Regions from separate parts of the Homo sapiens genome. Here region 1 is linked to region 2. The links come from fine-mapping of genetic effects on gene expression. A gene starts in region 2. The other region holds a variant in brackets. All regions are shown on one strand. Distances are from middle to middle.

Evidence for each region. PIP is the estimated chance that this variant, and not a neighbour inherited with it, causes the effect. A credible set is the group of variants that fine-mapping cannot tell apart.
Region 1: its variant is the best candidate, but not a certain one, in a credible set for the expression of ITGA4 in whole blood (Lepik 2017, PIP 0.57).

Annotation. Positions count from the first base shown.
Region 1 is chr2:181,232,512-181,236,910 of GRCh38, reverse strand. All of the region lies in intron 2 of LINC01934 (long intergenic non-protein coding RNA 1934), which reads right to left. Among named protein-coding and RNA genes, the nearest start is that of MIR4437, 71 kb to the left of the region's middle. The variant T/C (reference allele first, on the strand shown) is at 2,653.
Region 2 is chr2:181,455,648-181,460,046 of GRCh38, reverse strand. It overlaps ITGA4 (integrin subunit alpha 4), which reads right to left and starts at 2,661. Exons shown (of 28, transcript NM_000885.6): 1 at 2,196-2,661; 2 at 1,730-1,851. The coding sequence starts at 2,392. RefSeq lists enhancers at 1,615-1,664, 2,025-2,074, 2,135-2,324, 3,045-3,154 and a silencer at 2,475-2,864.

The DNA of each region.
Region 1 (4,399 bases), 220 kb after region 2:
GCCCCATGTGTTATTCATTGTTTTATTCCTATTTACTAGATGACTGAATAAATATTTCTTGAATTAATTTATGTTAATGTTAGCAACTTGCCTGACAAGAATATATTCCTTCTCAATTATATGTCTGCATTTCATGCAGTAAATAAATACATAGATAAACCTCCCTCCAAGAATAATAAAATGGTAGAAGCCAAGGGACACATAATAATATGACAGTAAAATGATATAAAAGAATGAAAAGCTTTGATTATCTGTGTCAGGTATCTGTATATATTACAACCTCAATATTTTGGTTTTGTGTTATACGTGCAAACTAAACACAATTTTAAGAAATTTTTTAGGTCATACTGTAACTGCTAAAAGGTCTACAATTATGCTGATGCCTAGTATCTTAAGATAATTGCAAGTTAGAAAGGAGAATATGGAACTAGCTCATTCGCTTCATTTTGTAGATTAAGAGCTGAGTTTGAAGGGAATCAAGCATCTTGACCAAGTTCTTACAGTTAGTTGAATGGTAGCACTATACCCCAGGCTCCCTGGGCTCCTTCAATTTTCTTCAAGCTTATTATGTTCTGTATGAAAGGAACATTGACCACCACCACCACCACCACTTACTAAAGTCCTAGTATGTGTCAAAGGAAACAACTCCCTGACCACCACACATTCATTTCTTACTTTAGGACCCAATTAGGCTATAAGAAAAGTAACCACAAACACATTAGAGGAACTGAAGATTGGGTGGGGTCAGAAAGAAGGGCCTTCCAAGAAGTGTCAAGAACTATGATAACATGACCACTGTGGTATCAATGTATAGTTCATTCATAATATAATAATAAATAATATGGATATTGAATCCTGAACTCCCTAACAAGTGGCCTAGACAGTTTTTTATTTTGTTTCTATTGGATTTTAATGAGTAATACATGTGGCAGTCAAAGATCTGTGTTTAAGTGTAACTTGGAAGAAGACTATTATTGACTTCTATCAAGTGGTGATATTGAAAGCCACAAGATGATAAAAGTATCTAACTCCTGTTTTCTGAACCTATTCAACAAGTGCTTTTCAGTGGCATTAAATACTTTCTGGAACTACGTGGGGTATATTAAAAATAAATAAGTGAACGAGTTTTTGTTTTGTTTTTAATAAATGGCGGAAACTAAATACTTGTATTGACACAATCTGGGAATCAGTTATACTTCAATAGCATTTCTTATTGTGATTCGGAGATCTAAACAGTAAAAGATTTATCTACTAGAAAATGTCCCACGTCATGGAGTTAATTTTTTTTTGAAGTTTTGACTGATAAGCTGAATTATTATACATACCACCTTCTGATTCTGCTGCACCCAGTGGAGCTGAAAATATTTACAAGGGTGTCCTTATTTTTTTCTCCAACATACCTATAAGCGGCATTAAATTATTCTACACTTTATAAGCAAGGACGGTTTGGTATTTGAGGTTCACACTCCTCTAGCATCACAAAACCATTTGGCACCAGCCTCAGGAAAGTAAAAGAATCTTAAATTAGGCTCATAAAATTGACCTGGTTCTAAAGAAAGATAGCCACTTGATAGTAAAGGTACTACGAGCACAGGGCTCTGCTTATGAACAGTAACACTTATTGACTGCTTCTGATGTGCAGGCACTATGCTAATCACAAGTATTAACTCATTTGGTCATTAAACCCATTTTATAGATGAGGAAACTGAGGCACAGAGAGTTTAGTAGCTTCCTTGAGATTTACAGCAAGCAAGCAGTAAGCTAAAAGCCAGGAAGCCTGTCTCCAGAACCTTGCTTTTACCCTGGTCTTCTTCTCTACATATCCCACCTTTCTATTTCACTCTTCAAATGTTGCCTTACTGAGTGATCAAGCTCTTCCTCAATTCCCATTTGACCTTTGCCTCCTCACCAAGAGCCAAAAACAGCTGAAAATGTTTACTTTTATTAAAATAAGTTTACTTAGGGTAGCAAGGACTCTAAAACTCAAGGCTAGCAATTAAGCAAGTGGAGATTCCACACAAAATGTTTATTTGTCCCAAGAGAGTCATTACAGCTCTCTTAGCTTAAGAAAGTGATACAGTATATGCTTTTGAGGGTTCCACATAACCCACATGTCAGCTGCCCCAGTTGGTATTCACCAGAGAATTCCCTGCATCTAAGGCCTTGTGCTTATGTTGTAAAATGTACTAATGGATATTAACATTATGATAATGCCAAAAATCAAATTCCAAAGGCTTATCCCAGATACATGGCTTTCATCAGCTACACAAACCTCAGGGGAGATTTTATCAACTGCTGATCAAAGGAAGCAGCAGGAGCTGATACAAGCACAAGACAGGGCATGTGGAGTGTCCTCCACTCAAGTACACCCCAGAGCAGAGCGTCTCCAGGAGTTGAGACAGCACATCAGCAACTCAATTGTAGTATTCAAATGAATGGAGTTCTCTTTAAGGGCAAGTCTCTGAATAGAAAGTTTAAAATCTGATCCTGATTTAACATGACTATGCCCTCACCTGGATGTATATTGCTGTAAGAGATACCTTACCCATATGAGGGTCATGTCAACTTGCTTCCAAACATAAATGAAGTGAAGCACAAAATCATGTGACTCCTCAAGTGTACTTAGCTCTGCACAGATAAAACTGCTTTATT[T/C]GGAATCACGGAAAAAGAAGAGGGAAGGGCATCTGCAGACCATGCAGCTTATTAAACCAATTTGTTTCCTGAGTCAAGTACTTGAGGTACTCTCAGTTCTAATTAATGTCTCTTGCAAATGCAGCCTCATAACTAACGTTCATTCTTCTAATCGTAGCCATATGTTCCTTCCATCGTTTTAATGATATAAATGGAAATTATTGGTGTTTATCATTGAATATTTCTATTTAAAAAAACATTTTTTCAGGCTGATGCTTTATGCTAAGATCAGTGGGTGAGAAAATCCCTCTCTGGAAATATTTTCTCACTTCCTGTAGTCCATAAGTGAGGCCTTATTTATGGTTTTTAAATATCGCATTAAGAATTTTGCCTCCATTAGATCCATGCTACTAAAATGGCAGAACTCTTCACATAAAAAACAGAGATAAACTGAAAAGGGGATAGCTGAGTCAAATATACAGCCTGTAGGTTGAAGTATAATCATTACATCTCGCTTAAGGCAAGAGAGGTTGATAGTTTACAATAAGCTTCAAGAAAATCACTTGCTTATTTCCAGAAGCCAATAGCTTAAATCAAATTCCTTTACCTTCTCTAAATATGCCACATATGTTTTCATTTTAAGAAGTACTTTTTATGTATGTGACTGTAGTAAAAAGATATGTACAGATATACAAGATTTCAGAGCTGGAAGAGACCCTAATGATCACCCAGTCAGGTGGTCCATAACCCTCACTGTGTACCCTAAACAACTGATGAGCTTGCAGACTGGTTCTTCACCAGAGAAATTATAATTCAATTGCTCTGAGGTGGACCCGGTGGAGCCAGATATACTGTTTTGCAAAAGTACTCCTGGTTATTCTAATATGTGGTCAAGCTTGAGAAGCACAAATCTTGTTTATCCATCTCTTTTGGAGCCAATGATATTAAATGATTTATTCAATGTCCATAGACAGTTATGTTTGACAGGGGGGAGACTATGAGCTCAGGCTCAAAACCCTCACACCTGTGCATTTTCTTTTATCGTTTACTAATACTTCTTTAATCCATGCTTTTAAAAATAAAGTTAATTTAGCAATAGAAATATCTTTTAAAACAAGACAAAATAAAACCTAGAACTATTCTTCCATTCCCTTTTCAAGGGTCTGTCCCCATCTTTTATTTTTTGTCATTGTAATCTCTCCAAAGTGCCAGCTGTGTGTTAGAAGGTATCACTGTATAACTCCAGGATTAAAGTAAAAATATTAGTAAACCATTCCAGAATCGCCAACAGTGCAAAACACAAAAGAAAGACTCCTATTTACCCTTGTATTAAAATATAACAATAGCAGCCAAATCATCATTCCGTGGCAGGAACTGTACTCAAGTGTTGGATCCAGACCATCTCACTGCATCTCAGCAAAAACTCTGTGAGGTCATATATTACTGTCATCTCAGTTATACAGATAAGAAAGCCAAGGCACCAAAATTTATTTCCCCAAATAAATTCCCCCAATTTAGGTAACTTTGCCTGGCTAGGAACTGGTAGTCAGTTTAGTCTTTTTTTTTTTTAAGTTCAATCTTAAAATCACAAGATGAAACTGTCCTTCAAAAGCAGCATTTTACCTTTACTCATAATAAACTAATATTTACAAAGCATTTTTAAAAGAACATTATACTCCTTTCTCATCTGATCTCATTTAAGTATTACAAGATTTATTTACCATAATCATTTTGTTAAAGAGAAACTAAGGCTTAGGGAATACTCAAT
Region 2 (4,399 bases):
TATGACATATCTACTATGTTTACATTTCTCTGAGAACAGTCAACTCCCATGCTACACATGCCCAAACAATTTTTTCCTTCCATTGACAGGCATTATCTTAAATTTAATACAGTATTATGTCATGATTTATCCAGTTAAACACAGACATCCAGAAATAGATTCAGTGTCCATCCAGACAGGAAGTAGGCACTAAATATCAGTAGTTATAATGTCATGGATCAGGAAACTATGACAGGACAACAGAAATAAAATTGCTCCCTCCTGAGACCTTGCCAAGATCCTCTGGCAGACCAAAGTTGTCGGCTCCACTCCCTAATTCTTCACCCACAACTCTCTCATGCAATGAAAATTATGCTTTGCAAAATCATTCCAAAATGTATGGGTCTGTGAATGTTTTATGCATTCCTACTGTGATTTCTGGTATTGAGGATGCTTAACAAGAGGCTAGGGCTTATTCTACATGCTACAGACAACTCGTAGACTTTTATAGGTGCTCTGAGTTAAAAGTAAAAATTCCATTATGTTTATACTCTATCTGAATTCATCTGAATGAAGGGAACCAGCTTCACAGTTTGAAAAAGAGCAAAGACTACTATAAAATACAAAAGAAGTTAAAGATCCAATAACTAATCTCAAAAGTCCATTTATAGCAAAGAAATATAAAGAAGTACCAATTTTATTCACCGTTTACAGATGACCCATCAGCTCAGCAGACAACATATTAAACCATTCACTTAATTTTATTTGCATTGAAGATACATACATGGAAGAAAATGGCTTAGACTTTGGACGCATTCAGACCCTAGTTTGACTTTAGTTCCCACCTATCAGTCACTAGCTAAGTAACTTTTAAAAAGGTATTTGCAACTCTGAGCCACAGTCCTCATACATAAACTAGGAACAATGTCAACCATGACCCAGGGTTGCTTTAAGGGGAAAAAAGTTAAGCAATATATATAGCAGTAACACTTTGGAACAAGATAGGTCTTGTTATTTAATATTCCTTCCTCTTTCCCCACTTGCCTGTGTGCAACAAACTTGTCTTTGGCTTTGAAACATGAAACTTCTCCCCTCTATCAGTACACATTTTTCAACTTGTCACAAATCTGAGACATTGAGAAATGACTGCAAAAAGATGGACCCATATAACATGAGTTTTGGATGACGGTTTTGGGAATGGAAAATTATACTACATTAACGATGAAGATGCCAATTTTCCTTTTCTTTTAGATTGTATATTGTAAGTAAAACTATCACTTTTTTTTTTAGGCCTTTAGGTTAAACGACGGGATATGGGATCAATTCCAATTGCTATTCCTGATATGCTCCTTAGCCTGTTCTTTAAGAGGGTTGATAGGTCAAAGATGGAAATAAAATTCTCAAGTCTTGGCTTAGCTGGATCCTGTCCTTAATACGCTGAGAGAGTCTAAAATGTGCTTTACACACGGAGAGACGGGGAGAGATGAAGAGAAGGTATCATAAGAAATTTCTCTAGCATAGTTGTCAGAGTACTGCAATCATTGCCATAAGGAAAAGGGAGAACGATATTAACAGAAAGGGAATCCCTTTTATATTAAGGAGGCAAGATGAGATGGAGTTGAAACTGAAAACTTTATGCTCTTTAAACCAGAAGTAACAGGCAACGTGAATCTTTCCAGGACTTGCCCTATGGTGGGGTCCACATGGGGGGTCGGGAGGTCACTAACTCCTGGTCCCATACCCAACTCACCCAGCTGGAGCTGTTCGCACGTCTGGCCGGGATTCTTTCCGATCCTGCATCTGTAAATCGCCCCGGGATTGATCACTGAAGCGTTGGCGAGCCAGTTGGCAGTGGGCGCACCCACTAGGAGCCTAAAGCGAGACACGTGCACGTGCGCTCAGACGTGAGCTGTGCTGCCCACTGAGCTCCCTGTCGCCACAGATGTGCAGTCCGCAGCAGGGCAGCTTCCCCACCTCCTCCTCCGCCCACCACCCCCGACTCGAAGCTCCAAGACCTTGCACCATAACGCACCCGGGGCGCTGCCGCCCCAAGATAAGTTAGTTTCCCTGGCAGATTTCCAGCGAGCTGGCTCTCGCAGCGTTTCCCTCCTGCCTCCTTGGGAGGGAGGAAAGTTTGAATCGGGCAGGGAATCCCTAGGGCGCCATTCTCACGCCGCTCTGAGCTGCTGAGGGCGCATCAGTCCAACTCTACTCACCATCGGTTCGCCCCGTGGCTGTGCAGCACGACCGAGTAGCCGAACAGCGTGTTGTGGGGGCCCTGGTAAAGCAGCGCGCTCTCAGTGTCCACGTTGTAGGGGCGGCCGGTCGGGACCCCCAGGCACAGCAACAGCATCACCGTCTCCCGGACGGCGGCCCTTCGGGGGCCGGGTTCGCGCCTCGCTTCCCAAGCCATGCGCTCTCGGTGGGGAACATTCAACACTAAACGGCCACTACCCCAAAGTTGCACGGGATGCGACGGTTGGCCAACGGGGAAGAACGCCCCAAGAGATGAGGCGCAGCGTGTCCGGCGCCAGCGGGCTAAAGGAAGGAGAGAGGGAAGAGGAGGGGAAGTCGGCCCACCGCGGGCGGAGCGTTCGGGCCGGCCTGGGATGCCGCGCACTCGCCCGGCCCCACTCCCGGTTTCTGCCGCCAGCCGGGAGCTTCGGGTGCTCGCGCTGCTTCTCCGGGTACGGGCCGCTGGGTGGGGTCCCGGGCGTGGTGCGGAGGCGCAGGGCCGGGCTCCGTCTCTGCCTACGCGCGGCTGCAGGGGGCGCTGGGGAACCTCGGCTGCGCAGGACTCGCGTCCTGGCCCGGGCCTCCCAGCCCGCAGAGCGCGGGATGGCTCTGGGCTCAGCAAGAGCGGACCTGATGGGGCACGGGCTTCCCCTTTTAACGGTGGTTGGGGCCTAGAAGCGGAGCTGTGTGACCCCAAACTGCGCGCCCCTCGCTGTGACCGCCCAGCCCGGCGTGGCCCAAATGCCAGCCACAAACTCGGGGAGTGGGACTGCGGCGGGGAGCCGTCCAGTTCTTTCGTTGATAGTTAAACACTGTGTCTTGTTTTTCAGGTGTAGGCAACCACTAGATAAATTATCAAGAGCCACAGATTAAAAACAAAAAACCAAACAAAAAGACTCGCCGAAGGCCCCTGGGGAACATTTTAGTGACAAAGACGTTATGGCTATTCTCTTCAAGACCCACATCTCAGCACCCTTCTATACCCACTTCCTTCCTCCCCACACTTCCTCTGCAGCCCGGGCTGCATGCGTGAGCAGGCTAGCAGCAGCCTCTCAGGCTGAACGGCAGGCGGTTTAGGCTGTGGCTGACCCCAACAGAGAGGTTGGGTTAAGGAAGCACTGTGACTTGATTCACTTTAACCGATTCGGATTGCTCCAGCTGGTAATTGATGATCCCCCCTTTTCACGCACCCACTCAGTTGCCACGGGACACACCTGCTTTTAGGGGTGTAAACCCCAGTGTGGGGTCAGGGTCCTAATGAGCCTCTGAAATGTGCCGGAGACCCACAACGCAACACACCTGAACTGGGTAGTGAGTCTCATTCTAATGCAATCCAGGTGTGCCCTGCCTTTTTTTTTTTTTTCCTTCAGCAACCAGAGAGACAGCCATAGGTGATTATTAGACTGATATTTTCAGGAGATGAAAGTCTAGTTTTTTATTGTTGCTATATGTAAAAAGAAAAGAAAAGTCTGCATCAAAGAGTGTGTCTGTGTGCTAAAACCATGCTGGAATAAATAACACATCTGACACTAATGACAGATACACAATTAAAATGCTTATTCATTTATTCAGCACATTCATGGAGCAGGCACTTGACTAGGACCACAGGATTCCACCAAGAGTAAGGCAGGACTGATACAAAGTTTCAAAAAATGTTCGCTCCAATGGTAGATAGAAAAATTTGTACTAACTAGAGAAAGATCCAGGTAAGGACACTTAAAGAGAGATTTGAAGGACCAGGAATCTTGAATCAGGCTAAGAATGGGATGAGCAATAAGGAGGGCTCCAGAGGAGCCAGGTAGAAGAACTGAGAGAGCTTGCCTGGCTAGAGTATTTAGCCACTCCACACACAGGTTGGTGTGATATGAGGCTGACTTAGGGAAGCAGGAATACATGGTGAACCTCATGAGCCAGGTTAGGAATTTTAAATCTATGTTGGGACTGACAGGAAGTTGAAGAATTTGTCTCGGTCAGCTCTGGGTTTCAGAAGTGTGAATGCAAGACTGAACACAGAAAACCTAATTTTGGAAGCCCCTGCAGCAATAAGTAGAGATAGGATAATCCCAAGGGGAAGTATTTCTCTTTCTTGAAAGAGAATGGTGCTACCATTCATGGAGAAAAAAACACTGAGAAATGAAGTTATATGCATGTATGTGTGCATGCAGATGGGGGCATGGATGGGTTA